Linked DNA regions of Homo sapiens. The protein of the gene in region 1 purifies or fractionates together with the protein of each later gene. This does not show direct contact. Each region holds a gene or a part of one and is shown in the gene's direction. Other genes may lie near its edges.

Region 1 (4,261 bases):
AAAAAATACTTTCATATGTTCCAGAAAGCACTTTTTTTCTTATGATACCTGTGTAATATCTAATAATTGTTTTATAGATTCTTTTCATCAGCCAGATATTTTCCACATTTCCTCTGGATTTAATTGTTCACCAGTTGGTCACTTGTATTAATGTCTCTGTCCCAACAGGAAGCTGAAATGTTACGTTCCATCTCTTTTCATCCTTCTGGAGACTTTATACTTGTCGGAACTCAGCATCCTACTCTTCGCCTTTATGATATCAACACCTTTCAATGTTTTGTCTCTTGCAATCCTCAAGATCAACACACCGATGCTATATGTTCCGTTAATTACAATTCTAGTGCCAATATGTACGTAACTGGAAGCAAGGACGGCTGCATCAAATTATGGGATGGTGTTTCAAATCGATGCATCACAACTTTTGAGAAAGCACATGACGGTGCTGAAGTTTGTTCTGCCATTTTTTCCAAAAATTCTAAATACATTCTCTCAAGTGGAAAAGACTCTGTAGCTAAACTTTGGGAAATATCAACGGGACGAACACTGGTCAGATACACGGGTATGTGAGACGTTGATGTTACTTAACATTTCTGTAGTGTTTACACTTTCCAGAACTCTCTTTTAAGACCTCACAATAGAGCAACACAATATCTATGCATTGAGCAAGGCAGATGTTACCCTTTCTTAGATAAGAGGAAACCAAGACTTACAGGTTAAGTCATTTAGCCAAGGCTACACGACTTGGAAATAGAACGGTGCTTTCTTTGCTCTTCTGAGCACCTCACACCGTGGACTAGGGCTGGATTCCATGCAAGTAACATTTGAGAACCTGGTGATCCATTTGTAGACTGGCATGCCCTCTTCCCACAGAAATGTGAAAGCAATCCAGAGAAAAGTTTCCAATAGTAGATCTCAGTATTATTAATATATGTATTCATGAAAGAATGGCTGAGAGGGAAGATCTTATCCCATTCCTAAGAGAGCAGACCTAGCCCGCAAAGGAAACCACGTTAATTCTGAATGCAGATATAAAGTAGGCTCAGCAGACAGAAAAAAATTGCATCCACTGAATTCTCATTTATGTATGTTGGTCTCATTGGTAACAGTAGTGCCTGTGGAGTCTTTTTATAATGAAATCCATTTAAATTTATCCTATCACTAGTAGGGCCCAAGTCTGGTTATTTGATAATGAATGTTAAAACACTGTCTTCTGTTCCTTGTAGCAGCAAAGACTGTTGTTTGGTAGAAAACCTCCAGAAAATTTCTGATTGTTTCTTCCATTGTGAGATATGTTTGTATCATACACTAAAATTGGCATGAGCATAACTCAAAAAAAATCACAAGAAAACAGTATTGGAAGGGACTGGATTGTGTTTAAGTTTGCATTGAAGAGTCAGTGACATCTGACCCACTAGGGGGCAGCATAACTTGCCTTAGATTTGTCTCATTGTAACCAAAGTTCCCTTCCCCAGCCATCTTTCTGGCTTCTGGTACCACTAGCAAATCTTAGGAAGAGCCATTTTTATCATAATTCTTGGTGACTTCATTGAAACACTTGTATAAAGTTGTTCTGAAAAGTATTTATTATAAAGAACTACTTTATAATAGTTGTGTTTGTTGCAAAAAGAAGATAAAAAAGTGATCAGGGTAAATGTGAAAGTACTCCCCCTATAGAAGTTATAACTGTTTTAAGGAGTGTGCTGTATCTGGACAGATACACACCAGCCTACTGACAATAGCTTATATATTTGCTCTAGGAATGTTTTGGGTGTTTTATAATAGTATGAGGTTGATTGGCTTGTTTTAGTGGGGAATAGCAGTGTGGTTTTTCAAAAATGTGATTATGCTGAATTTATGCACAGATTCCCCTTTTCCTTTTTTCTCATTTCACAGGTCAAGCGCCTGTCATGTCAGCATGTTAAGATTTCTGTTCCCAGTTTTAATAATTAGTTAGAATTTGGGCCAGGCGCGGTGGCTCACACCTGTAATCCCAGCACTTTGGGAGGCCGAGGTGGGCAGATCACAAGGTCAGGAGTTTGAGACCAGCCTGGCCAATATGGTGAAACCCCGTCTCTATGAAAAATACAAAAATTAGCTGGGCTTGGTGGCGGGCGCCTGTAGTCCCAGCTACTTGGGAGGCTGAGGCAGGAGAATAGCTTGAACCTGGGAGGTGGAGGTTGCAGTGAGCCGAGATTGCGCTGCTGTACTCCAGCCTGGGCGACAGAGTAAGACTCCGTCTCAAAAAATGATAATAATAATAATTAGTTAGAATTCAGAGGGTTTTTGAAATGATGAAAAAGGAAAAACTATCAAAACTTTAGAAATTGGGATGCAAAAAATTAAAAACAATATAAATAACATACAGGACTGGGAGAAAATGGTTATAGCATATATACAGATGTTAGACATTGAGTTAACATCCTTAATCTATAAAGAGAACTCATATGGGAAAAAGATGAGTCCAAACTCGAGAAAAAAGGAGCCAAAGGACAGGGGGCTGCAGAAGAGAAAAATGGTCAGGAAATGTAAGAAAAGGTGGCCAGCCTTGCTGCAGACCCAAGAAATGAATATGGGGACCTGGTTTTGTTAATCAGATTTCAGGAGTCTTAAAGATTTATATTATCTACTATTGATAGAGATTTCGGGAAATCATATTTTGTTGGTCAGAGTCAGCTGGTAAAATATTTCAGCACAGTTTGGTGTCATATCAAAATTTTAAATACACGCTTTTTGACCCACTATATCTACTCTTAGAAATTCAACCTAAAGAGGTAATTGGACAGACATGCACATGCCCATAAAAGGATGTGTGTCCCAACATCATTTGGAGTGGCTGAAAGTTAGAAACAGCATAAATGTCCAATAAGAAGCACTGAGGAAATCTGTTACGCATCCATGGACAACATACACCTTTAAAAATAAGTATGCATGCTAACATGGGCTGAGCACTCGCACTCCAGAGCCTCCTTTGCATTCTCTTATTCTTAATCCTCACAGCCTTATGGGGTAGGTTCTGTAACTACTCCATGGAACAGATGAGAAAATTAAGGCTGAGGAATGTTAAGTAATTTGCCCAGGGTCACATTAGTGTTGAACCCACATCTGACCACACAGACTTTGTGTTTTTATCCACTAAGCTGTATTCTGTCTTTACAGATCTGCACTACATATGCTTGAATATTAATAGTATATGACAAATGCTCTGACTTAAAGAAGTTACAAATGAAGCCAGGGACTGTGGCTCACACCTATTATCCCAGCACTTTGGGAGGCCAAGGTGGGCAGATCATCTGAGGTCAGGAGTTTGAGACCAGCCTGGCCAACATGGTGAAACCCCATCTCTACTAAAAATACAAAAATTAGTTGAGTGTGGTGGCACATGCCTGTAATCCCAGCTACTCAGGAGGCTGAGGCAGGAGAATCTCTTGAACCCAGGAGGCAGAGGTTGCAGTGAGCCGAGATCACACCATTGCACTCCAGCCTGGGCAACAGAGTAAGACTCTATCTCAAAAAAAAAAAAAAAAGAGAGAATTTACAAGTGAGCACATAACACTTAGATATTTCGAAAGAGTATTCACCAAAGTATTGACTGTTACCTCTGATGGGTGCAATTATTAGGCAGTTTTTATTTTCCTTTTTATACTTTATTTGGTACTTTTAAACATAAAATATGTAATTTATAGTCATAAAAAGGCTTCCTTTTGGAAAGTAGATATTCATATACTTTGTCTCAGTAATTCTGTCTCTAGGAATTTACTCCTAAGGAAATAAAGCTTTCTGTACAAAGGATGTTCATTACAACATTACTTATAATTGATATAAACTAAATGTCAGGAAGTAAAAGAATTGTTAAACAGGCCGGGCATGGTGGCTCACACCTGTAATCCCAGCACTTTGGGAGGCCGAAGCAGGTGGATCACAAGGTCAGGAGATAAAGACCATCCTGGCCAACCTGGTGAAACCCTGTCTTTACTAAAAATACAAAAATTGGCTGGGTGTGGTGGTGTCCACCTGTAGTCCCAGCTACTTGGGAGGCTGAGGCGGGAGAATCACTCGAACCCAGGAGGCGGAGGTTGCAGTGAGCCGAGATCACGCCACTGCACTCCAGCCTGGCGACAGAGTGAGACTCTGTCTAAAAAAAAAAAAAAAAGATCACACACAAAAGAATTGTTAAATAAGTAATGGGGCTTCTAAACATGAGGCACTTTGCATCTAGTAAAAAACATGGAAAAATGTACTCAGCATAAAGTTGGTTAAAACT
Region 2 (4,261 bases), on another chromosome or scaffold:
CATCTGTTTTGTTCCAGCAATTCAGTGAGGTATGCTTCTTGAAAATGTTGTATGTAATTATTATTATGTTATTTATTTTTTATAAGCAGGTCTTTATAAACTGGAACTCATAGTAGGAAAGAAACATGACTTTATGGTTTGCACAAAAGTACTAAGAATGCTTGTTCATTGATCAGATTTTCACAGATTTCCAGAAGTTCCTTTGTCAAACTCCTCTTCATACACACTCCATTTTATGGAGCTGTGTTAGCTGTGTTTTTTAATGAAAGTACAGACAGCTGCACCAGTTGTTTAGTTGGTTGTATCACCTCAGTTACATAAAGATTTTTTTTTTTTGAGATGGTATCTCACTCAGTCATCCAGGCTGTTGTACAGTGGCTGGATTACAGCTCACTGCACCCTCAACCTACTCAGGCTCAGGCGATCTTCCCACCTCAGCCTCCCAAGTAGTTGGGACTACAGTTGCATGCCAACATGTCCAGCTAATTTTTTTGTAGAGATGGAGTTTTGCCATGTTGCCCAGGCTGGTCTGAAACTCCTGGGCTCAAGTGGTCTGCCTGCCTCAGCCTCCCAAAGTGCTAGGATTATAGGTGTGAGCGCTGTACATAAAGATCTTTAATGGCAAAGCAGCAAATCTGGAAATCTGTTTAATTTTATTTCAGGTAAGTTTTTAACTAATTAATTAATTAATTTTTTTTGAGACAGAGTCTTGCTCTGTCACCCAGGCTGGAGTACAATGGCGCGATCTCAGCTCACTGCAACCTCTGCCCCATGGGTTCAAGCAATTCTTCTGCTTCAGCCTCCCTAGTAGCTGGGATTACAGGCGTGTGCTACCACACTTGGCTAATTTTTGTATTTTTACTAGATGTGGGGTTTCTCCATGTTGGCCAGGCTGGTCCCAAACTCCTGACCTTAAGTGATCCTCCCACCTCAGCCTCCCAAAGTGCTGGGTTTACAGGCGTGAGCCACCATTCCCGGCTTGCAGGTAAGTTTTGATACTGTACTTAAGAATGGCTCCCAGGAGTGGTTTGCTCCCAGGGGTGGCTTTAAATTACAAATACTTTATTAAAGTTTCTGGCACAGCATTGCTTCATGGTGATTATTATCCATTGTGAAGATAATATTATCGATCTGTGCCAGTGTGTCGCCAATAGAGCTTGCAGTTTGAGTTCCTCAGGAATCTTGAGCTCCTATATAGAGGGTCTGGCTAGTATGAGATGATCTACAAAAGAAGTATGGTTTAAATCAAAGTAAGAACTTTGATTTATCCAGCCACTTTGGTGATTTTGAACGTAGCTATCCACCACTCAGCCTGGAAAAAGCTGAGTGATTGATAGCTATGTTCAAAATCACCAAATTGTATCCAGAACTCGTGCAGCAAAACAGACCTAGTGTTACCTGGTTTCTCAGAATTAGGTGTAGCAAGTAGGCCGGGCACAGTGGCTCATGCCTGTAATCCCAGCACTTTGGAAGGCCAAGGCGGGCGGTTCACGAGGTCAGGAGTTCAAGACCAGCCTGATCAACATGGTGAAACTCCGTCTTACTAAAAATACAAAAATTAGCCGGGTGTGGTGGTGCACGCTTGTAATCCCAGCTACTCAGGAGGCTGAGGCAGGACAATTGCTTGAACCCGGGAGGCGGAGGTTGCAGTGAGCCAAGATCACGCCACTGCACTCCAGCCTGGGTGACAGAGTGAGACTCCATTTCAAAAAAAGAAAAAAGAAAAAGAATTGGGTGTAGCAAGTAAATGTGGAATAGAGTTATTAGAGATATGTGTTAATAATTTGATGGGGGGGTAGAAAGAGAAGAAGTGCAAAAACAAGCATAAAGTGAAAACCACAATAATTAACTCTTTGCATATCAGCTTAGTGAGTCACTATATATACTTCATTAGAGTAATTTTAATCCATAATGCTGATCCTAATTATAACTGAAAGGTTAAAAGATGTTTTGTGTCTTATGTCTATGAAGGGAATTTATAATTTATATTCTACAGAGGTTTTCATCCAAAATGGGAGTAAAAAAACCCCAAACCCTAAATGATTGTAGCAGTTAAAGAGATAAGCTTCAGTTATCTAGAAATGTACTTAGGAAACATCTCATTCCCTCTCTTATTATGTATGAATCAGTTTCTGGCTTCTATGGCCCTATAGTATAGATTAGAAATCCACCAAACAGCCAAAGCCATAAATATCTCCTGAACACTGATGTGTGGTTTGAATGGTACTTAATTCGCATTTCTTTTTTTTTGTTTTGAGACGGAGTCTCACTCTGTCGCCCAGGCTGGAGTGCAGTGGTGCGATCTCGGCTCACTGCAGTCTCTGCCTCCCGGGTTCAAATGATTCTCCCACCTCAGCCTCCCAAGCAGCTGGGACTACAGGTGCTCACCACCACGCCCGGCTAATTTTTGTATTTTTAGTAGAGACGGGGTTTCACCATGTTGGCCAGGGTGGTCTCAAACTCCTGACCTCAGGTGATCCACCCGCCTCGGCCTCCCAAAGTGTTAGGATTATGGTGTGAGCCACTGCGCCTGGCCTTAATTCACATTTCTTGTGCCAATTTGGTCCTTACAGATTTGAGGTAATCTATAGGTGAAAAGACTGAAGCTCAGAGTGGTAAAAGAATCTTGTCAGAGATCTGTAGCTGGGGCATTGGAATCCACATTTTCTGGTTCCAAATCCAGTACTCTTCTATACTAGTGTAGAAGCACCTGTAAATTCAGGTAGCAAATCAAAACAATATGGAAATGAGTTTCATGAGAAGTTCAGACCATAAGAAATATTGCCATTAACAAAGAGATTTGTGGAAGCTGGATTTTGTCAAAGAAGACCTTTTAGTTGGAAGTGGACCTTGAGCTAGAACCTGAAGGATGGTTAGAAAATGGATAGAGAAGAGGAAAATATCCATTCTAGGTGCAGTCATATGAGCAGGAATTTAGAGGAGAGGACAGCATAGTGTTTGTGGGAAAAGGATGCTTTGAACTTGCCTCTTTTAGCAGTGAAAAATCACTTGATGGAGGTCATTTGGAGTTGTAGGAAACTTTGACTAAGTCTTTGATTTTAACTTTTTTATTGGAACTACTGCCAACACTTAAAAGAGCATATGAAATGTATACAATTTAAATAATAAATCTCCTTTGTACTCACAACCTAGCTTGAGTGTCACAGGTAATGCTCTCCAGATAGTATACCATGTGCTGTCTCCCTGTATAATTTTTATTTGTTGCTATGTTAAATTACTTGTTTGTTCTTTATATTTAGGGATTCATGTAGAAGATAATGACCTGAAATTTGTGGTAGAACAGGCAGACATATTTCTTGTCTCAGAGTGATTAGGAGAAGGATTCTTTTTCTTTTTCTTTCTTTTTTTTTTTCAGACGGAGTCTCACTGTGTTGCCCAGGCTGGAGTGCAGTGGCGCAATCTCAGCTCACTGCAACCTCCGCCTCCCGGGTTCAAGTGATTCTCCTGCCTCAGCCTCCTGAGTAGCTGGGACTACAGGCGCCCGCCACCGTGCCTGGCTAATTTTTGTATTTTTTAATAGAGACGGGGTTTCACCTTATTGGCCAGGCTGCTCTCAAGCTCTTGACCTTATGATCTGCCTGCCTCAGCCTCCCAAAGTGCTGAGATTCCAGGTGTGAGCCACCGGGCCTGGCCAGGATTCTCTTTCTTAAAGACATTCCTTATTATCTTCTTGTGCTTTACCAGTTTGGCTTGGGCTTTAGGAAATCAGCTTGTTATATCTACTTGAATTTACAACATGATCCGATGAGGCTGCAGGTCTAGTTTGGGCACTTTAGGCAGGTTCTTCTGAGTTCTCAAGTCAGTATATTCACTGTACATTCAGTACCTCCAGTTGGGGTTCTCACAGAATACCTCATTTCCTCATCATGTCCAAGACTGAACTCATGATGAAGGTCTTCTCTTTTTGTGTCTGTATTTCAGTTACACACGCCACCATGGTGTAGTGCCAGTCAGAAGGCTAAAAGTCATCCTGGCCATGTCCTTGAGGCTCTCCAAATGCTTAGCATAGCCCTAGCCCTTCCTGAGGGGCAGGAAGAGGTAGAGAGATCTGTTTCCAGTTCCCAAACCAATGTTCTTTCTACCAGCGTGGGCTGGTTTGGGAATTGATTTGGGAATTGGAAACATGGGCTTCACTTAATTTTTATGGATCTGTTTCCTCACCTCTAAAATTGAGGCAGTTGTAAAAACTTGATAATATTTCATTAATTATTGAAGTTTTTTTTTTAAATAATTCCTTGTA
Region 3 (4,261 bases), on another chromosome or scaffold:
CTTACGTGGTGGAGAGCAGAGAGAGCAGAAGCTGTGCCGCCTCTTTTTTAAGAGTCAGGGTCTCACTCTGTCACCCAGGCTGGAAGTACAGTGGTTCAATCATAGCTTACTGCAACGCTGAACTCCTGGGCTCAGCCTCCCAAGTAGCTGGGACTACTGGTGTGCATCACTGTGCCTGGCTAACTTTTTAATTTTTTTATAGAGACAGGGTCTTGCTGTGTTAACCAGGCTGATCTAGAATTTCTGGGCTCAAGTGATCCTCCTACCTCAGCCTCCCAAAGTGCTGGAATTACAGGCTTGAGCCACCGCACCCAGCCTCCTGACCCTTCTTATAAGGGCACTAATTCCCTCGTGACTTAATTACCTCCCAAAGGTCTCACTTCCAAATACCATCGTACTGGGGAGGCTTCAACATATGAATTTTAGGGGGACACAAACATTGAACCTATAGCACTACCATTTCCTTGGGATCCACTCACCCAATTAAAAGTGGGAGGGTTTTGAGGTAGGAGTGGGAGGAGATGAGGGGAGGAGGAAATCTGCAAGAAAAACCACTGACACTTGCTGTGGTATGGTACTTGGTGCGTAAGAATACCTTTCACAGGCCGGGCGCAGTGGCTTACTCCTGTAATCCCAGCACTTTAGGAGGCTGAGGTGGGTGGATCACCTGAGGTTAGGAGTTTGAGACCAGCCTGACCAACATGGAAAAACCCTGTCTCCACTAAAAATACAAAATTAGCTGGGCATGGTGGCACATGTCTGTAATCCCTGGTCCTCGGGAGGCTGAGGCAGGACAATCACTTGAATCTGGGAGGTGGAAGTTTCAGTGAACCGAGATTGCGCCATTGCACTCCAGCCTGGGCAACAAGAGTGAAACTCTGACTCAAAAAAAAAAGAATACCTTTCACACTTGTTGAACCATGCTGTTAATTTAAATCTGTTTTGGTCTGAACTTTCAGGCTTGGTCTATGTGACTATGAATAATAATACCTCTCTTCTTTTCTTCATTAGGTTCTTTTCTCAGCCCTCCAAAAATTCATGTGTCTGCCAGATCAAAACTCATTGAACCTTTTTTTAACAAGTAAGTAATCAGAGAGTTCCAGTTTCCAAGTTCTCTCACTGTGGAACAGCCTCATATCTTGGGATGTCAGTTTGGAGTTATTGGGAGCTATAACACATTTTTAGATAAGCTGTTTTTCATCTCGAGTGACTCACATGTTTTTTGAAAGTAGAAAGTGACCTTTTGGGGAACAAATGTATTAAAAATATAGGCTTAAAAAAAAAAAAGAAAACATTGCTAGACGTAGTATAGTAGATCTCTTCCAAGAAAAAGAACTGGTAGTTCTGGCATTTAAATTTCCTATGAGGGGCCGGGTGTGGTGGCTCACACCTGTAATCCCAGCACTTTGGGAGGCTGAGGTGGGCAGAGTGCTTGAGGTCAGGAGTTCGAGGCCAGCCTGGCCAACATGATGAAACTCGTCTCTATTAAAAATACAAAAATTAGCCAGGCGTGGTGGCATGTGCCTGTAATCCCAGCTACTCGGGAGGCTGTAGTGGGAGAATTGCTTCAACCCAGGTGGCAGAGGTTGCAGTGAGCTGAGATTGCACCACTGCACTGCAGCCTGGGCAACACAGCAAAACTCTGTCTGAAAAAAAAAAACAAAAAAAACAAAAGAAAATTTCCTGGCCAGGCGCGGTGGCTCACGCCTGTAATCCCCCAACTTTGGGAGACTGAGGCAGGCGGATCATGAAGTCAGGAGATTGAGACCATCCTGGCTAACACGGTGAAACCCCATCTCTACTAAAAATACAAAAAATTAGCCGGCACGGTGGCGGGCGCCTGTAGAAAACATGATTTTCTTAGCTCTTTTATTTTTTGGGGCAGTGTTTGTCTTTGGAAATGTAGCCTTTGCTGTAGACCATGGAACCCACAGGTGATTGATGTTAAATATAGTTCTTTTTTTTTTTTTTTGAGATGGTGTCTCACTCTGTCACCCAGGCTGCAATGTGGAGTGCAGTGGCACAATCTCAGCTCACGGCAATGTCTGCCTCCTGGGTTCAAGCAGTCCTCCTGCTGCAGCCTATGGAGTAGCTGGAACTACAGGCATGTACCACCACACCTGGCTAATCTTTATATTTTTAGTAGAGATGGTGTTTCACCATGCTGAATAGGCTTCTCTCGAACTCCCTGACCTCAGGTTATCTGCCCACCTCAGCCTCCCAAAGTGCTGGGATTACAGGTGTGAACCACCGTGGCCAGCTAAATATAGGTCCAATTATGATTGTTCCCTTACATTTTTATGTACTTGATGTTAAATTCATTGTTCTGCAGTATTTTTCAACTGAGAGATGTTGACTCATTTGTATTATTATTATTATTTTTTTGAGTCACGGTCTTGCTCTTTTTTCCATGCTGGAGTGCAGTGGCATGATCTTGGCTCACTGCAGCCTCCACCTCCTGAGCTCAAGTGACCCTTCCACCTCAGTCTCTTGAGTAGTCATTTGTAAATATTTACACGCTGTAAATATTAAAACAGTAATCCTGCTTCTCCACTAAAGTCAGCTCCTTATAAAATCAGATGTTGGATGCAAACTGGGTTAGATGTGGGCTGCATCTAGTTTATCAGTCATGTATGTGACCAACATGCAGAGCAATCAAAATAAACTTTGATTAAAAAGCTTAGCTGGGCTGGGTATAGTGGCTTACGCCTGTAATCCCAGCACTTTGGGAGAACAAGGCGGGCAGATCACTCGAGGTCAGGAGTTCGAGACCAGCCTGGCCAGCATGGTGAAAACCGGTCTGTACTAAAAGTACAAAAATTAGCCTGTATTCCCAGCTACTCGGGAGGCTAAGGCAGGAGAATCGCTTGAAACCAGGAGGCGGAAGCTGCAGTGAGCCAAGATCACACCACTGCACTCCAGCCTGGGCAACAGAGTGAGACTCCCTCTCAAAAAAAAAAAGAAAAAAAAGCTAGCTGAGACTTTCTGTATTTCTAGATCAATCTAATATTGCTAATACTGTGCAGGACTATTATTGAAAAGAACTAGACAGTAAATGTGTAGGCTTATTTTGAATTGGGACATCTGTCCATTCAGAATTTTTTTGTAAAACCTAGATGCATACCAAGAGTAGTTGAATAGGAGGTGGGATTTGGGAATCCTTCTGTGATTATTTTTTTGGTCTATTTTTTTCCAATCTGTAAAGGAAGAATATTTTCTTCATCATTAAAGGAAAAATATTCCTGCAAGATTTGAAATACAAAATAAGAACTGTGTTTTTTTTCTTTCTTTTTTTTTTGAGATGTTGTTTCACTCTTGTTGCCCAGGCTGGAGTGCAATGGCGTGATCTCGGCTCACCGCAACCTCTGCCTCTCGGGTTCAAGTGATTCTCCTGTCTCAGCCTCCCAAGTAGCTGGGATTACAGGCAAGTGCCACCATGCCCGGCCATTTTTTTGTATTTTTAGTAGAGATGGGGTTTCTCCATGTTGGTCAGGCTGGTCTCGAACTCCTGACCTCAGGTGATCCACCCGCCTCGGCCTCCCAGAGTGCTGGAGTTACAGACGTTAGTCACCGCGCCTAGCCAAGAACTGTTTTTATTCCTCTTTTTTTTTTTTTTTTTTTTTGGTGAGACAGAGTCTCACTCTGTCACTTAGGCTGGAGTGCAGTGGCGTGATCTCAGCTCACTGCAACCTCCACCTCCTAGGTTCAAGTGATTCTCCTGCCTCAGCCTCCTGAGTAGCTGGGACTACAGGCTCGTACCACCACGCCCTGCTAATTTTTGTATTTTTAGTAGAGACAGGGTTTCACCATGTTGGCCAGGCTGGTCTCAAACTCCTGACCTCAGGTGATCCACCTGCCTTGGCCTCCCAAAGTGTTGGGATTACAGGCGTGAGCCACCATGCATGGCCTGTTTTTATTATTATTTATTGGAATAACTTGGTTAAGTATAGGCATTCATTCTTAACCCCCTTAGAAAGTGGGTTTTATGGCCAGATGCGTTGGCCTATGTCTGTAATCCCAGCACTTTGGGAGGCTGAGGCGGGCGGATCACCTGAGGTCAGGAGTTCAAGACCAGCCTGGCCAACATGGCGAAACCCTGTCTCTACTACAAATACAAAAAGTAGCTGAGCGTGTTGATGGGTGCCTGTAATCCCAGCTACTGGGGGGGCTGAGGCAGGAGAATTGCTTGAACCCAGGAGGCAGAGGTTGCAGTGAGCCGAGATTGCGCCACTGCATTCCAGCCTGGGCAACAAGAGTGAGA
Region 4 (4,261 bases), on another chromosome or scaffold:
AGCTGGGATTACAGGTGTCACCTATCATGCCTGGCTTCATTTTAAATAATTTTTCTTGGTGGGGTAAATCCAAGATTTATTGTGATTGTTCCTTTTCTAATCACATTTTCATTCTCGATCAAAATACCTGATATTATCTGTAGAGCAAAAATAAATTTAGCCGGGTGCGGTGGCTCATGCCTGTAATCCTAGCACTCTGGGAGGCTGAGGTGGGTGGATTGCTTGAGCTTAGGAGTTCGAGACCAGCCTGGAAAACACAGTGAAACCCCATCTTTACTAAAATACAAAAAATTAGCCAGGCGTGGTGGCATGCACCTGTAGTCCCAGCTACTTAGGAGGCTGAGGCAGGAGAATTGCTTGAACCTGGGAAGTGGAGGTTGCAGTGAGCCAAGATCATGCCACTGCATTCCAGCCTGGGTGATAGAGCAAGATTCCGTCTCCAAAAGATAAATAAATAAATTTGCAGCTAAAAATGATGACATTTAGCATTTTTTCAGGTTCATTTTTATTAGGCTCACTTCGTTTCACATACATTGTTCAGTTAAGAAGGCATTTAGAGTTAAGGCTGTTATTCAAAGCTGAATAAAATATCCGTGAAAAATAATCTTCACAGTATCAAGCCTTGGAAAAAAACTATTAATTCTGAAAAATCTGTTAAGTTCTAACATGATGAGGTTAAGAATCATGAGAAACTGAATGAAATTAGTGTGAAAGACCCTGTCTTCTATACTTGCTTAATCTTTTAGAATAAACATTGATTTCTTTAGCAGTGAGCAAAAAAAGTAGAGCCATGACAAATCAAGGACTCCGACCACCTGCCCAGTTGTACTTTTATTAGTTGATAAATTAGGAATTAACAGCGTGGTTGGAGTGTAAGTCTAAATAGGTATTTCTAACAAGGTCATAAGAGGAGATCATGGCAATCTTACAATATTTTGTATTTTGTAAAATTATTTTCATTCTATAATTTATTAAACAAGCGTTCTAAGATACATTGTTGTGAAAGTTATATATAGTTCTGTAAATGCTTATTGGTGGGTATAAGAGAAAAAAAGTATCTACTTGTGATATTCAGAATGATTTATATGAATGGTAGCTGAAAACTGAAGTTTGAGTTAAAAGAAAACTACAGTTTTTGTTATTAAGAAAAACAGTATTCAGTCACTGAAAAATTTTAGCAAATTTTAACAATTGTACAAATAATGCTTGAATCCATTCTCATAAAAAGTTAAATACATGGAGAAAAATTTTAAAAGTCCTCTTGACACTGTCTCTCCATCCCTTCTCCTTTCTCCTGAGGTGTAACCAGTGTCATTAGTTTGGTCATTTTTTAGCTTTATTGAATTTTGTGGCCTCACTGTATAGTTCCCATTCTTTGTAACTTTACAAATATTTATCTTGCAGGTATTAATCAAGAAGAGCTATGACCGGACCAAACGTCAGCGTCGTAGAAACTGGAAATTGAAAGAGCTTGCAAGAGAGAGAGAAAACATGGATACAGATGATGAAAGGTCTCGCTTTTCTTTAAATCTCTTATGTTGTCTCAAAGGAAATATTTATGATAAATACTTTTTATGTTGTAAAGAAATAGGCATCACACAATTGATCCTTGCACTCAATTATAATCTTGGATTCTTATCAAGGTATTAATGGAATCAGTATAAGATGATGTAAAGACATTTAACACAGATTTAGTAATTATTTCCTGGTTTATGACCTAATAATTGTAGTGTTAATGTAAACAATTCATTTGAAAAGTTAAAATATAATCATACTTTGCTTAACAATGGGCATACCTTCTGAGAAATGCATCATTAGGTGATTTTGTTGTGTGAGCATCATAGAATATGTGGCACATGACTTTATAATAAATAATTACATTATGAATATCACAAATAGCAGATGAGTACTTATGGCTTGAGATAAAAAGGAAACAGCTCATTGATGCCAAGTGTGTTATTCCTCAAATAATTTAAGCAGAAATGAAGACAGTGTTCTAAAACAGTTTATTGGATGATTCAAAAAGTGGCTTTAATGATGGTGAAGACACCGATGTCTAAAAAAACTGAGAGTTTATATAAAATTGTTTCATGAAATGTGAGTTGGAAACAGCAGTATGTCTACATAGTCCTTAAAATGAAAGTCCTTAAATGAAGAAAATATAACTATATTTTTGGTGATGAAATATTTAAATGTTTATTTAAAGGCAATACCAAGATTTTCTTGAAGATCTTGAAGAAGATGAGGCAATTCGAAAAAATGTCAACATTTACAGAGGTTGGTGTTCTAGGAGTGTTTAAGTCATTTGTTCTGTATATAAGTATAGTTCCTAGTATGAATATTTTGGTATCTTAAGCTTTGATTCTCATAAATGTCTTTAATTGTTTTTTCAACTACTCTAGTCACACTTCTACAAAAAAACTTGCAAAACAATAAATAAAACTTAACAAAATACTGTTTTGTATATTACAGTTAGTATTATTTGCATTCTAGCTTGATCCCTTAAGTTGCTCACTCCTATAGTGGTGGAAGTATATTCTTACAGTTACTCAGTTCATTTGTTCAGTGAATGTAATTTGAATGACTGCTGTAAGAGACAAGAGCTTCTGATACAATGTAGTTACATAATAATAATGATAAGGTAGATATTTGTATATTTTCAAATATATTTAATACTTTGTATACATATAAATACTTTGTATTTATTTTATTCTCTTTGTATTTTTTTAGATTCAGCCATCCCTGTGGAAAGTGACACCGATGATGAAGGAGCACCTCGAATTAGTCTGGCTGAGATGCTTGAAGACCTTCATATTTCCCAAGATGCCACTGGTGAAGAAGGTGCATCAATGCTGACATAATGAGATGTTGTAGACTGTTTCCATACATGGGCTTAAGAAGTTGGACAGAGTTACCTTAAGTGTCTCTACTATCTTTGCCTCCAGATTTCAAGAGGAGAAATTTAGTTTTAAACCTGAATAAACATGTTTGTTTTCAGTGCTCACTCAAACCACTAAAACAGATGGATAGCTTTGAGGTTTTAGATAAGGAAAGATTATGGAGAATGTAGTTGTTATTGATTTTTGGCAATTTTACATTTGGAATTTTATCACTGTGCTTTTTTATATGAGGCACTGTAGTATTTTCACATAGTATAGTACTCTGGATGTAAAAGCTCAAAAATTGTGATTCCTTGAACGTTCACTAAATCTTCAAGCAAAAACACATTTTTACATTATTTTTACGTTGATTATTTTAGTGAAAGACCATATGAAGAAGCATTTTTAATATTAACTTGTTACATACTTTGATCCACTTTACATCATTTTTATGTTGTTGAGGTAGGGAAATTAGGGTTCAGTTTATCACTGGACATTCAGGAGGCAAGTCAATCTTTTTTATTTCCTTATAAAATTAACTCTTCAAAAGCCGTTAAACAGAGAGTTATCTTAATTTTTATTGCAGTAGGAGGAAATATATTTAAAATATTTGTAGATTTATAGCAAATAGAGACTCGTTATTTAAAGGTTAAATAACAATTTGTTCTTTTGTTGTTTTTGCCAGTTTAGGGCAGTAGCTGCTTTTGTCATAAATATCTTCCTACCACATCAAAAATGCTGCTTTTAAAATTTTTGTTTATAAATTGAGAAGGAATTTTCTCTCTATAAGTTTCTGTCATTGAACAGATCACCATTAAAAAGAATATTAGAATCCAGCATGAAGATAATGGCTAATAAAAATGAGGTACATACTTTATAAAACCATTAATCAGATTTGAATGAGGAATGCTTCCCACATCCTTGAAAGAAAAACTGTGGCTTACGTTTTGAAGTATTCTGAGAATGAAGTATTAAGATCCAATTTCTATAAGCAAGATCAGACTTGTTAAGTATGCCGCAAGTAAGAGCTAATTCATTCATTCCATGTGTGCCACTAAATAAAGAGATTGAGCAAGTGCCACTGTGTGGAACATTTTTCTTTTTTTTAATATTGGACTTTCCAATTTTGAAATTATGGATAAAGTCCTAAATTTTCTATAGTGGCTTCTTTTCTGTCTGCATATTTTGTTAAAATTGTGGATCTAAAAGCCATATCCTGTCTTTGGTGGTGGCCTGGTAGGAATGGCTTGTCCTAGTTCTTCAAAGGTAAGATTGACCAAAGCAAGTTCTCATTGGTGGTCTGTGTTTACATCTTCCGTGTCAAGATATTTTAAAGCATGAAAATAAAGCCATTCTTGCCCTTTTTCGTGTGTTTGAAATGG
Region 5 (4,006 bases), on another chromosome or scaffold:
GTATTGATGAAGTTAATTAATTTCTTGGAGCCTCAGTTTCTTCATCTGCAAAGTGGAGCTAATGTTGCCTGGGTCACAGGTTTGTTGTGAGGTTAAATGAGATGACATACACAAAGTGCATGACACTTGGAGATGCTTGATAAACGTCAGTTCCGCTGACCTCATAGTGCTGTTTCCCCAAGTGTAAAGAGCCTGCCTATGCCAGAGTCACCGAGGGCCTTCTTAGCGGGGAGCTGCCTGAATATGAGTCTCCGCAGGAGGGCCCCAGACCTGCACTGTGATTCTGACTCTGACCATACTGGGAGAAACACTGCCCTGGGAGGGAGCATTCGCTTTCAGGGCAGATGCAGCTGTCCATTGGAGAGAGTGCACTGTCTGGGGGCTAAATACCCCTTGCTGTGGAAGACTGGGACGGCATCACCTCGCCCAGACAGCCAGCCTGCTCTGTGGCTGTGTCAGGCACGCTCCCAGGGTCTGCACTCAAGTGTCTGACGTTCTCATCTGAGTCTAGCTAGGGGAGTCTCTTTTGGTATTTTCAGTGCATGCTTTTCCTCATGGGGAAGCAAGAGGGATTTCCACCCTCCCTCCAGCTCCCTACTAGCACACAGCATGCACACAGGCATGCACGTGCGCATGCGCGCGCACACACACACATACTGACTCTTGTGTGGCAGTTCTTTTCAGGCACGTGCCCTTGCCCTGGCCTTCCCATCCCTGGCACCCACCGAGGCCTCAGGTCTGCAGTACTCAAGTGTTTGCGCCTCCCCTGCCTTTCTCTTGAACCCTGTCCTTGCCTGGAAGACTTCTTTGGCACGCTGGTGCCTGGTCCCCACTGAGGGCTGGTGAAAGGCACTTTGGAGAATAGTTTCACAGTTTGGCAGTTTCTTTTAAAGTTAAGTGTGTAGTTACTGTATGACCTAGCAGTCTCACTTCTAAGTATTTTACCCAAGATAAATGAAAGCATATGTTCACACAACCTGTACACTGATGTTTATAGAAGCTGTTTCATAATTGCCAAAGCTGGAAACACTTTGAGTATCCAGCAGCTGAATGGATGAACAGGCTCGTGCATGCCTCTAAGGGACTGGCACTCGGCAATAAGCAAGCATGGATTCTTGGTACAATCAGCAGCATAGATGAGTTTCACATGCATTCTGTCAGGTGAAAGAAGCTAGATGCCAAAGGCTATGCATGGTAGGATCCCATGCCATTCTATGACATTCTGGAAAAGGTAGAACCACAGGGACAGATAATGAGCAGTGGTTGCCTTAGGGGTGAGGGTGTGAGGGGACGTTCCAGGTGATGGAAGTGTCCTGTCTTGGTTGTGATGGTGGTGGTACAAATCCACAGGTAGGTCAGAATTCATAGAAAGATAAACCTCAAAAGTTTACTCTGTTATACTTCCATGAACCTAACTTTAAACAGTAAATAAGTGGAAACTATTGGTCATCATGGAGATCTCATCCCTGCTGCAGGGATTACAAGATCCTCCTCTGGTAGCTTAGGGGCCCAGGGACAGAATGACAAAGCAGTCACCACTTGTTTTGTAGGGGGGTCCTGCAGACCACCGGCCTCCCCGACTGCCCCCATGGTCACTTTCTATTCTTTCTGTTGGAGCAGGGCACTTTGTGTTGGTGTGCGGGGTGTTTCTTTTTGCCCCTGAACTAGTAATTTTTTTCTTTTTTCTTTTTTTGAGATAAGTCTTGCTCTGTTGCCTAGGCTGGAGTGCAGTGAGTGGTAGGATCTCAGCTTACTGCAATCTCTGCCTCCTGGATTGAAGTGATTCTCCTGCCTCAGCCTCCCGAGTAGCTGTGATTACAGGCGTCCGCCACCACGCCTGGCTAATTTTTGTATTTTTAGTAGAGATGGGGTTTTACCGTGTTGGCCAGGCTGGTCTTGAACTCCCACCCTTCAGTGATCCGCCCACCTCGGCTTCCCAAAGTGCTGGGATTACAGGACTGAGCTTCTGTGCCTGGACTGAACTAGTAACTTTTACACCCAGGAATTCCAAAGCAGTTTAAAAATACTTTGCTTAGCCCCCAGGCAGAGGCTTAACCTCCAGGTGGAGGCTCCATGAAGGAGCCTGTAGGGCTTGTGGCTTTTGAGACGGGGGATGCAAGAAGGAGGGCAAGGGAGGGGATTGCTTGGCTTGAGCAGGAGCAGGCAGGCAGGCTTTGGTGTCTGTCTGCCAGGATTGCTGAGGGATTTGACTAGAGGTGTGAGCTTCTTGCTTCAAAGCCAGGTCCTGTGATGGGTTTCTAGAGGTTTGTTAAAAAAGGTATATATGAGACCATAATAAGAAGCAAGGCCCGGTGGGGAAAACATGAACTCTGAGACTTAGGAGGAGCGTCGTAGAGGTCTGAGCTGGTGGGCCAGAAGCATCAAGACAATGGGTACCCTGGCCCTGGCACTTGTTCTTCTGACATGGGGTAGATGCTCCAGAAGTGCTTGGTCTTGCAGTTTATAAAATGGTGGTCTCATTTCCTAGGCTTTCGGACAGTCCTTTCTCCAGCCCGACATCCACCTTTTTAAACAAAATCTCTTCTACTTGGAGACTCTCAACACCAAGCAGAAGCTGTACCACAAGGTAAGTGCCCCAGCTCTTGGAAATATTCTTCCATCAGGGGCATTGTGGCCTGTGTCCCACCCTCAGGTTACTCACTGGAGAGTGTGACAGAAAGTGGATGGGACCCGGGACAGGCCCCTGGGGGCTGGCTGCTGCTCACCTGGTCTCTCTGCCTGCAGAAGATCTTCCGGACTGCCATGCTGTTCCAGTTTGTGAACGTGCTGCTCCAGGTCCTGGTCCACAAGTCCCATGATCTTCTGCAGGAGGAGATTGGCATCGCCATCTACAACATGGCCTCAGTCGACTTTGATGGCTTCTTTGCCGCCTTCCTCCCAGAGTTCCTGACCAGCTGTGATGGTGTGGATGCCAACCAGAAAAGTGTGCTGGGGCGGAATTTCAAGATGGATCGGGTGAGGAGAGAAAGAGGCCGGGCTAAGAGGAGGGCAGAGTGGGCACGCAAGCCTGGCACCTGTGCAGCAAGGAGGGGGCACATTGAGGCCTCTGGGCGTGGTCTGTGCCCACCCTGCAGCTTGGCGGCAGCTCACGAGATGCCTGCTGACCTGGTGCTGTAGCCTGATTGAGGGGCACAGCCTTTTCCCCAGTCTTGGTGTCTGTAGCACGTATGTTCTTAGTCTCAGCCATGGAGGTCCCGAGTTCCTGGCTCTGCAGCCCCTCCATTTGTCTTGGCATCTTTGTTCATACCCAGGACCCTGCCGTTCTCCCTCCTGGGTGATGAGCCCCGGTGGGGCCAGCATTGGAGTGTGCCCAGGCTTGCATTCAGGCTGAGATGGTTGGTGCTTGGGAGCTGCACTTCTGGGTCCCCAGGGTTAGAGGTGGGACCCAGGTTCCCCGGCTGTCTTGGGCTCTTTCCAGACCAGCCCCAGCTCAGCTTGGGCTGAGTTGCTGCCAGGTCCTGGGAGGAGCCCTCCTAGTACTCACCCTCTTGTCCCACTGCTGCCACCTGTGCAGGGACTGTCAGGTGGGCTGTCCCCACCCGTGCAGCACCTCGGTGGGAGCTGGGTGCTGCTGGCTCTTGGTGTCCATGAGGCCATCTTGTTGGAGCCTGACAGTGCCTGGGACCTCCTTCCCCATGGGGCTCACCTGTTCTCTTCTTCCTGTGTCAGGTGACCAGGCCTCTCTCTTGCCTGATAGGAACTTCTGGGAACTTTTCCTTGTACCGTTTTATACTTGATGAAATTAGGAAAAGAAATCGCTTTCTCCCTGGTCCTCTTGGGGTTCTTGACCTGAGTCCTCTGTGAAGCAGCTTGTCCACGGCTCCACCGTAGTGCTCAGATGCACACACTGCTCTCACTGGTGCAAACCTGGCCGCCTGCTTTCCTCATTTGCCACGTGTGGCAGGGAAGCTTTTGCTTAGACTCATCCTGTTCTCCTTTGTCTTGGGGTCTTCCTTTTCTTGGGACTTGTTCTCTCCTAAGCCTC
Region 6 (4,033 bases), 2.3 Mb from region 1:
AAGGAATAAATGAATGGGGGAGAACCGTTTCTCACACTGAATCCCAGTTTCAGGCTGCAGAGGTAGTGATGGAAACAGGAAGTCGTCACCCCACAGCCAGGCTTCATTCCAGGTGAGAGTGGCCCACAGTGCTGGAACTGGAGCATGAGAGTGGGATGGGAAGAGGACAGTCAAATGCTCTCAGAGTGCCTCTCGCAGCTTTATAGTGGTGACACTCACAACCCAGCCTAACCAGGTGTCCCAGGGCATGTCACCAGGGCAGGGACAGAGCCACCTGACATGCCTCCAGAGGCAGTGTACAGGGAAGGACAGAGCATTTCTGCAGGATTCCCACCAAAAATGCATGGCCTGCCTGTAGTCACAAGGACACGTCAGACAAACCCAGCACTGAAAGTGCCAAGGCCACAAAAGACAAAGCCAGACTATGCAGTCGCCCAGATTAAGGAGGGCAAGCAGGCCAGGCTTGATGTGTGGTCTGATCTGATCTGGACGTCTGAGGAGCACATGGAATCTGGATGGTCCCGAGAGGTGATGGTCCTGTGTTGGTGATTACTACCCCCTGCTGCCCATTGTCCCATGGCTGGACAAGATGCTGACATTGGCAGAATCTGGGTGAAGGGTGTTGAGGAATTGTTTGTGGCTTTTTTTTTTTTTTTTTTTTCCCCGAGATGGTGTCTTGCTCTGTTGCCCAGGCTGGTGTGCAGTGGTGCGATCTCGGCTCACTGCAACGCCTCCCAGGTTTAAGTGATTCTCCTGCCTCAGCCTCCAGAGTAGCTGAGATTACAGGCATGTGCCACCACCCTTGGCTAATTTTTGTATTTTTAGTAGAGACAGGGTTTCACCTTGTTGGCCAGGCTGGTCTTGAACTCCTGACCTCAAGTGATCCGCCCACCTCAGCCTCCCAAAGTGCTGGGATTCTGGCATGGGCCACTGCTCCTGGCTGTTTGTGACTATTTCTGCAATTTTTTTGTAAGTTTGAAATTATTTCACAGTGAAATGTTTTGAACTTTTTAGAAAGAGGATGTACCATTCAAAGATGGAAGGGTACGCCAGGAGCTCGGTGGCCCTGGGCTCTGGGGGTGTTAGCGACCCTCCAAGCCTGGCACCAAAAAAAAAAGCCCCTGACCCACTTACCAACCCAAAACCCTTGGCCGCCCTGGGGGACCAGGCCCAAGCCCTGGCGTAGCACTGGAGACCCTTCCCACGCTGTCGCTGAAGCACTCACAGTCCAGCCCCATCTTTGGCCACCCTCTTCTGTTAGACCAGCAAGTCCCAACTGTGCCAGGTAACACCCAGGAAGTGTGTGAACATTGACAGCTCCAGGGCTCACCTCCAGCTCTGCTGAGTCTTGGATTTTTTCAGCCGCTCCTGGTGATTGGAGAACACCTCCAGACTGGCCGTGAGGGCCGCAAGGGCAGGGCCGTGCCTGTGCTGTCTCTGTCTCACGTCTTCCAGCCGTGCAGACCTCAGCACTGTTTGCCCCAGGACTGCAGCTCGCTCGTCTTCTAAGCCAGCACTTCTCAAGTGGGGTCCCCATGTTGTTAGTAATATGGGTTCTCAGCTCTGCCCCAGACCTGCTGGATCAGAAATTAGGGGCAGGGCCCAGCCTTCAGCGGGTAGCAGCCCTCCCTGGGAGGCTGAAAGCATCCATTTGGGAATCCTCCTCCTCCCCGCTCCTCCCTCCTCCCCCCCCGCCTCCTCTCCTCCTCCTCCTCCCCCCCTCCTCCCCCTCTCCTCCTCCTCCCCACGCCCCAGCAGGCTACAGATCCAGAACTCTGCTTTCTAGGAGGACTTCAGGGCTCCCCTCCTTTGTTGGTGGAGCTCATCTCTGTGGCGTCCATGGCCTGGAGCCCCATGGCCTCATCCTGTGACCTCAGGGTCATGCTGTCATTTATTCGTTGTTCCTAAACACCCACTTCTCCCTGGAATGACCACAGGAGGCCTCAGCACAGGGACAGGCCGTGGTCACTGTACACACAGATGGAATGTCAGTGCTGGGGTATCTGGGGAGGAGCTCTGAGAGGAGGAGGCTGAGGGTCCTGAAGCCCCTGCCCCGTGTCCCTGACACAGGCTGGGCTGCGAGAGTGGGAGCGGGGGACTTGGGGCCCTTGTGGAGCTGACAGGTGGCTCCGATATCATCACCCTGAGGCTGGTGGGGTTCTTTCCCCTGTGCTGCGTGGGGGTGCGGGGCCATCTGTGAGGCTCAAGGACTGAGCGGGGACCCAGGGAGGTCTCAGGGACTCGCAGCTGCCATGCCCAGCACCACTGCTGCAGCTCCTGCCACTGGCCACTCCTTGCCCTGCTGGCTGCCCCTGCCCCACCATCCCAAGTGTTTGCCTTTGGTGAGGGCTCTGCACCCGTGGTGGAAGAGTCGGCTGTTCCAGGAGATGAGAAAGACGCTGGATCCTATAGAGCTGTGTGTCCGCGCTCTCGAGGCATGCTCCATGCTAGGAGGATGTATTCTGGTTAAAGATTCGTCTGCGGGAGCAGAGGAAGGGCAGGGACAGGGGTCTGGGAGCTCTACTCCATTTGACATTGCTGCCCGGGTGTGGCCCGCTTCGGGGTCAGGGGGCACCCTTAGAACCTGTGCAGGGCAGGAACTGCCACCATCTGTTGGCCACACATTTCTCAGTGAACAAATGACTTTTGGCATCAGAAAGCCATAACTTCACACCTAAACTTCCACGAGGCTGAGCTCTTCCTGCCCCTCTGTGTGTGTACGTGTGTGTGTGTGTGTATTGAGGGGACGCGGCTGCTGGCCACCTTCTGTCGGCACAGGTTGGCGAGGCTTCATGACTGCCCAGCCCATGCAGTCCAAGAGTCCCACAGCCCAGCCCATGCCCAGGCTCATCCACTGCGGCGGGTGGCCTCTGCCAGGGGAGGCTAGGAAACCCCAGTGGTGAGCCTTGGCCTTGGGATCTGCCAGGACTGTACCCGGGATGGCAGGGAGGGCGAGCTTTGGTCCCTGCAACTTGGAGCCATCTCTCTCTCTCCTGCTGTCTGTGGGTCTGAGAACCCCCAGCTCGTCCTCCCCCCTCCCCAAACCTATGACCTACAACTGGAGCCTCTGCCCACTTCTCCCTCCAGGGTTTCAAAGACAACCTCCACGCTGTGTTCTGCTTGGCTGAGAACTCGGTGGGGCCCAATGCGACAAGGCCAGATGACATCCACCTGCTGTACTCAGGGAAGTACGTCTGGCCCTCCCACTCCTTCCTGCCCACTGTTGGAACTCGCGACCCTTCCCGGCCTGCAATGCCAGCTCACTCCAGGCATATCGGGAGGGCACTCAGCGTTGGGGTCCCCTGGGCAGCAGGCTCCTTGCTTCCCGGAGGGCTGGGGAGCTTTGGTAGCAGGCGCACCTCACGTTGAGGGGCCCATGGCACCTGGATGAGGTGCTAGGCTCCCGTGCAGTGCCTGGCCCAGGAGCTCGTGGTCTACCCTGCATTACCAGGACAGGTCTTTCCAAAATTTAGGCCTGAAATCTTTGGGTGTGTGAAGCTCTGACCCCCAGATTCCCTGCTCGGGGACACCTCCTGCATCTCCCCCTTGAGATTGACCCTGGAAAGTCAAAGCTGAGCTGGCAGCTGAGGAGCAAGTGGCTCCAGAATTCAAAAGAGAAGAGCCCTCTCCCCAGCCCCATGAGCTGGTGCCTGAGTGGGCGCCTCCCCGCATCTCCTGCTCTTCCTCCCCATCTGCCGGGTGCCAGGCACAGTGTGCTGAAGGCCAGCCCAGCCGGTTCATGCCACCCACTTTACAGAAGAAGAAACTGAGGCATGGGAGAGCCAAATGGCTGGTCTCTGGCTCTCCAGAGCAGCGGGGCAGGGATGTCACCTGGAAGCCCTTTGCTCCAGGCACTGCATTGCTGTAGGGACTGGGGGCATCCCGGCCTTCCCATTCAGGGAACGTGTTGGGGTTCGGGGAGCCACAGGGATGGGCAGCTCCAAATGGGGTCTCCCCAGTTTCAAAGGGGCTCATGCCAGTGTCCCAGGAAATCCCGTCCCTGAGCGGGGATCTCTACCATGCCCCAGGACGG
Region 7 (4,261 bases), on another chromosome or scaffold:
ATTTGATTTTTGTACATGGTGAGAGATAGGGGTCCAGTTTCATTTTTCTGCATATGGAGTTCCAGTTTTCCCAGCACCATTTATTGAAGAAACTGTCCTCTCCCCAAGATATGTCCTTGGCACCTTTGTCAAAATAAGTTCACTGTAAATGTATGGATTTAATTTCTGGCTTCTCTATTCTGTTCCATTGGTCTGTGTGTCTGTTTTTATGCCAGTGCCAAGCTGTTCTGGTCGCTGTAGCTCTGTAGTATAAATTGAAGTCAGGTAATGTGATCCCTCCAGTTTTTTGTTTGTTTTTGTCTTGTTTTGTTTTTTGCTCAGGATGGCTTTGGCTATTCAACGTCTTTCGAGGTTCCATATAAATTTAGGATTATTTTTTCTATTTCTGTGAAGAATGTCATTGGTATTTTGATAGGGATTGCGTTGAGTCTGTAAATTGCTTTGGGTAGTATGGACATTTTGGGTAGTATGGACAATATTGATTCTTCCAGTCCATGGAGTATGTTACCATTTTTTGTGTGTGTCCTCTTCAGTTTTCTCATGTCAGTGGTTTATAGTTTTCTTTCTTTTTTTTGAGACAGTCTCGCTCTGTCATCCAGGGTGGAGTGCAGTGGTGCGATCTCTGCTTACTGCAAGCTCCGCCTCCCAGGTTCACGCCATTCTCCTTCCTCAGCCTCCCGAGTAGCTGGGACTACAGGTGCCTGCCACCGCACCTGGCTAATTTTTTGTGTTTTTAGTAGAGACAGTTTCACCATGTTAGCCAGGATGGTCTCAATCTCCTGACTTCGTGATCCGACTGCCTCAGCCTCCCAAAGTGCTGGGATTACAGGTGTGAGCCACTGCGCCTGGCCTTATAGTTTTCATTGTAGAGATCTTTCACTTCTTTGGTTAAGTTAATTCCTAGGTATCTTATTTTGTTTGTAGCTATTGTAAATGGAATTACTTTCTTGATTTCTTTTTCAGATTTGTTAACTGTTGGCATGTAGAAATGCTACTGGGGCTTTTTTGGTGATTTTGTATCCTGCAACTTTACTGAATTTGTTTATCTGTTCTAATAGGTTTTTTGTGGAATCTTTAGGTTTTTCCAAATGTAAGATTATATCATCTGCAAACAAGAATAATTATCTTCCTTTTCAATTTGGATTCCCTTTATTTTTCTTGTCTAATTGTTCTAGCTAGAGCTTCCAGTACTGTGTTAACTAACAGTGGTGAAAGCGAGCATCCTTGTCTTGCTCCAGATTTAGAAGAAAGGCTTTCAATTTTTCCCCATTCAGTGTGGTACTAGCTGTGAGTCTTGTATATGGCTTTTATTGTACTGAGGTGTGTTCCTTCTATACCCAGTTTTTTGAAGATTTTTATCATGTAGGGATGTTGAATTTTATCAATACTTTTCAGCATCACTTGAAATAATCACGTAGTTCTTGTCCTTCATTCTGCCGATATGATGTGTCACATTGATGGATTTGTGTATGTTGAGCCATCCTTGCATTCCTGGAATAAATCTCACTTGGTCATGACAAATGATCTTTCTCATGTGCTGTTGAAACAGTGGAAACTTTGCGTCAGTGTTCATCAGGGATATTGTCCTGTAGTTTTCCTTTTCGATTGCATCTGGCTGGTTCTGGTATCAGGGTAGTACTGGCCTCATAAATTAAGTTTGGAGGTATTCCTTCCTCTTCTAGTTCTTGGAATAGTTTGAGTAGGAGTGACATTAGTTCTTTAAACGTTTGATAACATTTGGCAGTGAAATATTGCGACCCGGGCTTTTCTTTGCTCAGTGGCTTTTCATTGCGGCTTCAATATCATTACTTGTTACTGGTCTGTTCAAGGTTTGGATTTATGATTTAATCTGTGTAGGTCATATGTGTCTAGGAATTTATCCATTTCTTCTAGGTTTTCCAATTTATTGGCATATAGTTGCTCACAGTATAGTTGCTCACAGTGTAGCTGCTCACGGTGTTGCTCACAGTGTCGTTGCTCATATTGTAGTTGCTCATATTGTTGCTCATAGTGTTGTTCTTCATGGTATAGCTGCTCACAGTGTCGCTGCTCACGATGTCATTGCTCACGGTGTAGTTCATGGTGTAGCTGCTCACGGTGTAGCTGCTCACAGTGTCGTTGCTCATATTGTAGTTGCTCATACTGTTGCTCATGGTGTTCTTCATGGTGTAGCTGCTCACAGTGTCGCCACTCACGATGTCATTGCTCACGGTGTAGTTCATGGTGTAGCTGCTCATGGTGTAGCTGCTCACGGTGTAGCTGCTCACGGTGTCATTGCTTATATTGTAGTTGCTCATACCGTTGCTCGTGGTGTTGTTCTTCATGGTGTAGCTGCTCACAGTGTCGCCGCTCACGATGTCATTGCTCACGGTGTAGTTCATGGTGTAGCTGCTCACGGTGTAGCTGCTCATGGTGTCGTTGCTCATATTGTAGTTGCTCATATTGCTCATGGTGTTGTTCTTCATGGTGTAGCTGCTTACAACGTCGCTGCTCACGGTGTAGTTGTTCATGGTGTAGCTGCTCCCGGTGTAGCTGCTCATGGTGTCGTTGCTCATATTGTAGTTGCTGATATTGTTGCTCACGGTTTTCTTCATGGTGTAGCTGCTCACAGTGTCGCTGCTCACGATGTCATTGCTCACAGTGTAGTTGCTCACAGTCTCTAATGATGCTTTGAATTTCTGTAGTATCAGTTGTTTGTAATGTCCTCTTCGATCTCTGATTTTATTTACTTGGGTCTTCTCTTTTTCTTAGTCTGGTTAAAGGTGTGTTGATTTTGCTTGTCCAAAAATCTAACTGTTCATTTTGTTGGTCTTTTGTATTTTTTTTAATTTCAATTTCATTTATTTCTGCTCTTATTTCTTGTCTTCTACTAATTTTGGGTTTGGTTTGCTCTTGCTTTCCTAGTTCTTTACGATGCAGTGTTAGGTTGCTGTTTGAAGTTATCTGCTCTTTGAATGTAGGTGCTAATTGCTATACACTTGCCTCTTAGTGCTGCTTTTGCTGTTTTTGCATATTGTGTTTCCATTTTCATTTAAGAATTTTTAAAATTTCCTTCTTAATTTCTTCATTGACCCACCGGTCATTCAGGAGCATATTATTTAATTTCCATGTATTTGTGTAGTTTCCAAAGTTCTTGTTATTAATTTCTAGTTTCATGTTTTAAGGCTTGTTTCGTGGCCTAACATATGGTCTGTCCTTGAAAATGATCTGTGTGCTGAGGAGAAGAATGTGTATTCTGTAGCTGTTGGATGCAATGTTCTATAAATACCTATGAGGTCCATTAGATCTATAGTACAGATTAAGTCTGATGTTTCTTTGTTGATTTTCTCTCTGGATGATTTGTCCAGTACTGGAAGTGGGGCATTGAAGCCTCTAGCTGTTACTGTGTTGGAGTCTGTCTCTCTCTTTAGCTCTAGTAATATTTGGTTTATATATCTGGATACTCCAGTGTTGGGTGCATATATATTTAAAGTTGTTATATCCTCTTGCTGAGTTGACCCCTTTATCATTATATGATGACCTTTGTCTCTTAGTATAGTTTTCGTCTTGAAATCTGTTTTGTCTTAAGTGTAGCTATTCCTGCTCTTTCTTGCTTTCCATTTGTATGGAATATCTTTTTTCGCATCCCTTTATTTTCAGCCTACGTGTGCCTTTTTAGTGACGTGTATTTCTTGTAGGCAACAGATTGCTGGGTCCTGTTTTTCTTTACCCATTCAGCCGCTCTGTCTTTTGAATGGAGAGTTTAGTCTGGTTACGTTCAATGTTGTTATTGATAAGTAAGGACTTACTCCTGCCGTTTTGTTGTTTTCTGGTTGTTTCGTGGTCTGCTCTTCCTTCCTTCTTGCCTTCTTGTTTTCCTTTTTATGAAGATGATTTTCTCTGGCGGTATGTTTTAATTTCTTTTTTGTGTGTGTGTGTATCTGTTGTGGCGTTTTTTATTTGAAGTTACCATGAGGCTTGCAAATAACATAACCCATTATTTTAAACTGATAGCTGAACACTGATTCCAAAAACAAGCAAGCCAAGAAAAAAATGAATAAAAACTCTACACCTTAATTTTATGCCCTCAGCTTTTTAACTTTTTGTTGTTTTTACTTATATCTTTGTCTTGAAAAGTCATTGTAGTTATTTTTATTTTTATTTATTTATTTATTTTTATTGTTTTATTTTTGAGATGGAGTCTCACTCTGTCACCCAGGCTGGAGTGCAATGGCGCCATCTCAGCTCACTGCAACCTCCGCCTCCCAGGTTCAAGCGATTC

Evidence for each region.
Region 2: the proteins of CSTF1 (region 1) and TTC27 fractionate together in Homo sapiens (co-fractionation; one large-scale study listed by BioGRID). This does not show direct contact.
Region 3: the proteins of CSTF1 (region 1) and PARN purify together in Homo sapiens (affinity purification with western blotting, with the first as the bait; one study listed by BioGRID). This does not show direct contact.
Region 4: the proteins of CSTF1 (region 1) and NMD3 fractionate together in Homo sapiens (co-fractionation; one large-scale study listed by BioGRID). This does not show direct contact.
Region 5: the proteins of CSTF1 (region 1) and XPO6 fractionate together in Homo sapiens (co-fractionation; one large-scale study listed by BioGRID). This does not show direct contact.
Region 6: the proteins of CSTF1 (region 1) and NPEPL1 fractionate together in Homo sapiens (co-fractionation; one large-scale study listed by BioGRID). This does not show direct contact.
Region 7: the proteins of CSTF1 (region 1) and DNAAF5 fractionate together in Homo sapiens (co-fractionation; one large-scale study listed by BioGRID). This does not show direct contact.

Annotation. Positions count from the first base shown.
Region 1 is NC_000020.11:56,398,799-56,403,059, forward strand, and holds part of CSTF1 (cleavage stimulation factor subunit 1), read left to right. Parts: intron 1-168; coding exon 169-559; intron 560-4,261. UniProt on the Homo sapiens protein: One of the multiple factors required for polyadenylation and 3'-end cleavage of mammalian pre-mRNAs. May be responsible for the interaction of CSTF with other factors to form a stable complex on the pre-mRNA.
Region 2 is NC_000002.12:32,633,977-32,638,237, forward strand, and holds part of TTC27 (tetratricopeptide repeat protein 27), read left to right. Parts: coding exon 1-29; intron 30-1,278; exon of another isoform or gene 1,279-1,355; intron 1,356-4,261.
Region 3 is NC_000016.10:14,577,694-14,581,954, reverse strand, and holds part of PARN (poly(A)-specific ribonuclease PARN), read left to right. Parts: intron 1-1,011; coding exon 1,012-1,081; intron 1,082-4,261. UniProt on the Homo sapiens protein: 3'-exoribonuclease that has a preference for poly(A) tails of mRNAs, thereby efficiently degrading poly(A) tails.
Region 4 is NC_000003.12:161,248,050-161,252,310, forward strand, and holds the end of NMD3 (60S ribosomal export protein NMD3), read left to right. Parts: intron 1-1,404; coding exon 1,405-1,511; intron 1,512-2,206; coding exon 2,207-2,277; intron 2,278-2,730; coding exon 2,731-2,861; 3' UTR 2,862-4,258; downstream 4,259-4,261. UniProt on the Homo sapiens protein: Acts as an adapter for the XPO1/CRM1-mediated export of the 60S ribosomal subunit.
Region 5 is NC_000016.10:28,100,428-28,104,433, reverse strand, and holds part of XPO6 (exportin-6), read left to right. Parts: intron 1-2,488; coding exon 2,489-2,587; intron 2,588-2,745; coding exon 2,746-2,976; intron 2,977-4,006. UniProt on the Homo sapiens protein: Mediates the nuclear export of actin and profilin-actin complexes in somatic cells.
Region 6 is NC_000020.11:58,709,392-58,713,424, forward strand, and holds part of NPEPL1 (probable aminopeptidase NPEPL1), read left to right. Parts: intron 1-3,087; coding exon 3,088-3,188; intron 3,189-4,028; coding exon 4,029-4,033. UniProt on the Homo sapiens protein: Probably catalyzes the removal of unsubstituted N-terminal amino acids from various peptides.
Region 7 is NC_000007.14:732,943-737,203, forward strand, and holds part of DNAAF5 (dynein axonemal assembly factor 5), read left to right. Parts: intron 1-4,261. UniProt on the Homo sapiens protein: Cytoplasmic protein involved in the delivery of the dynein machinery to the motile cilium.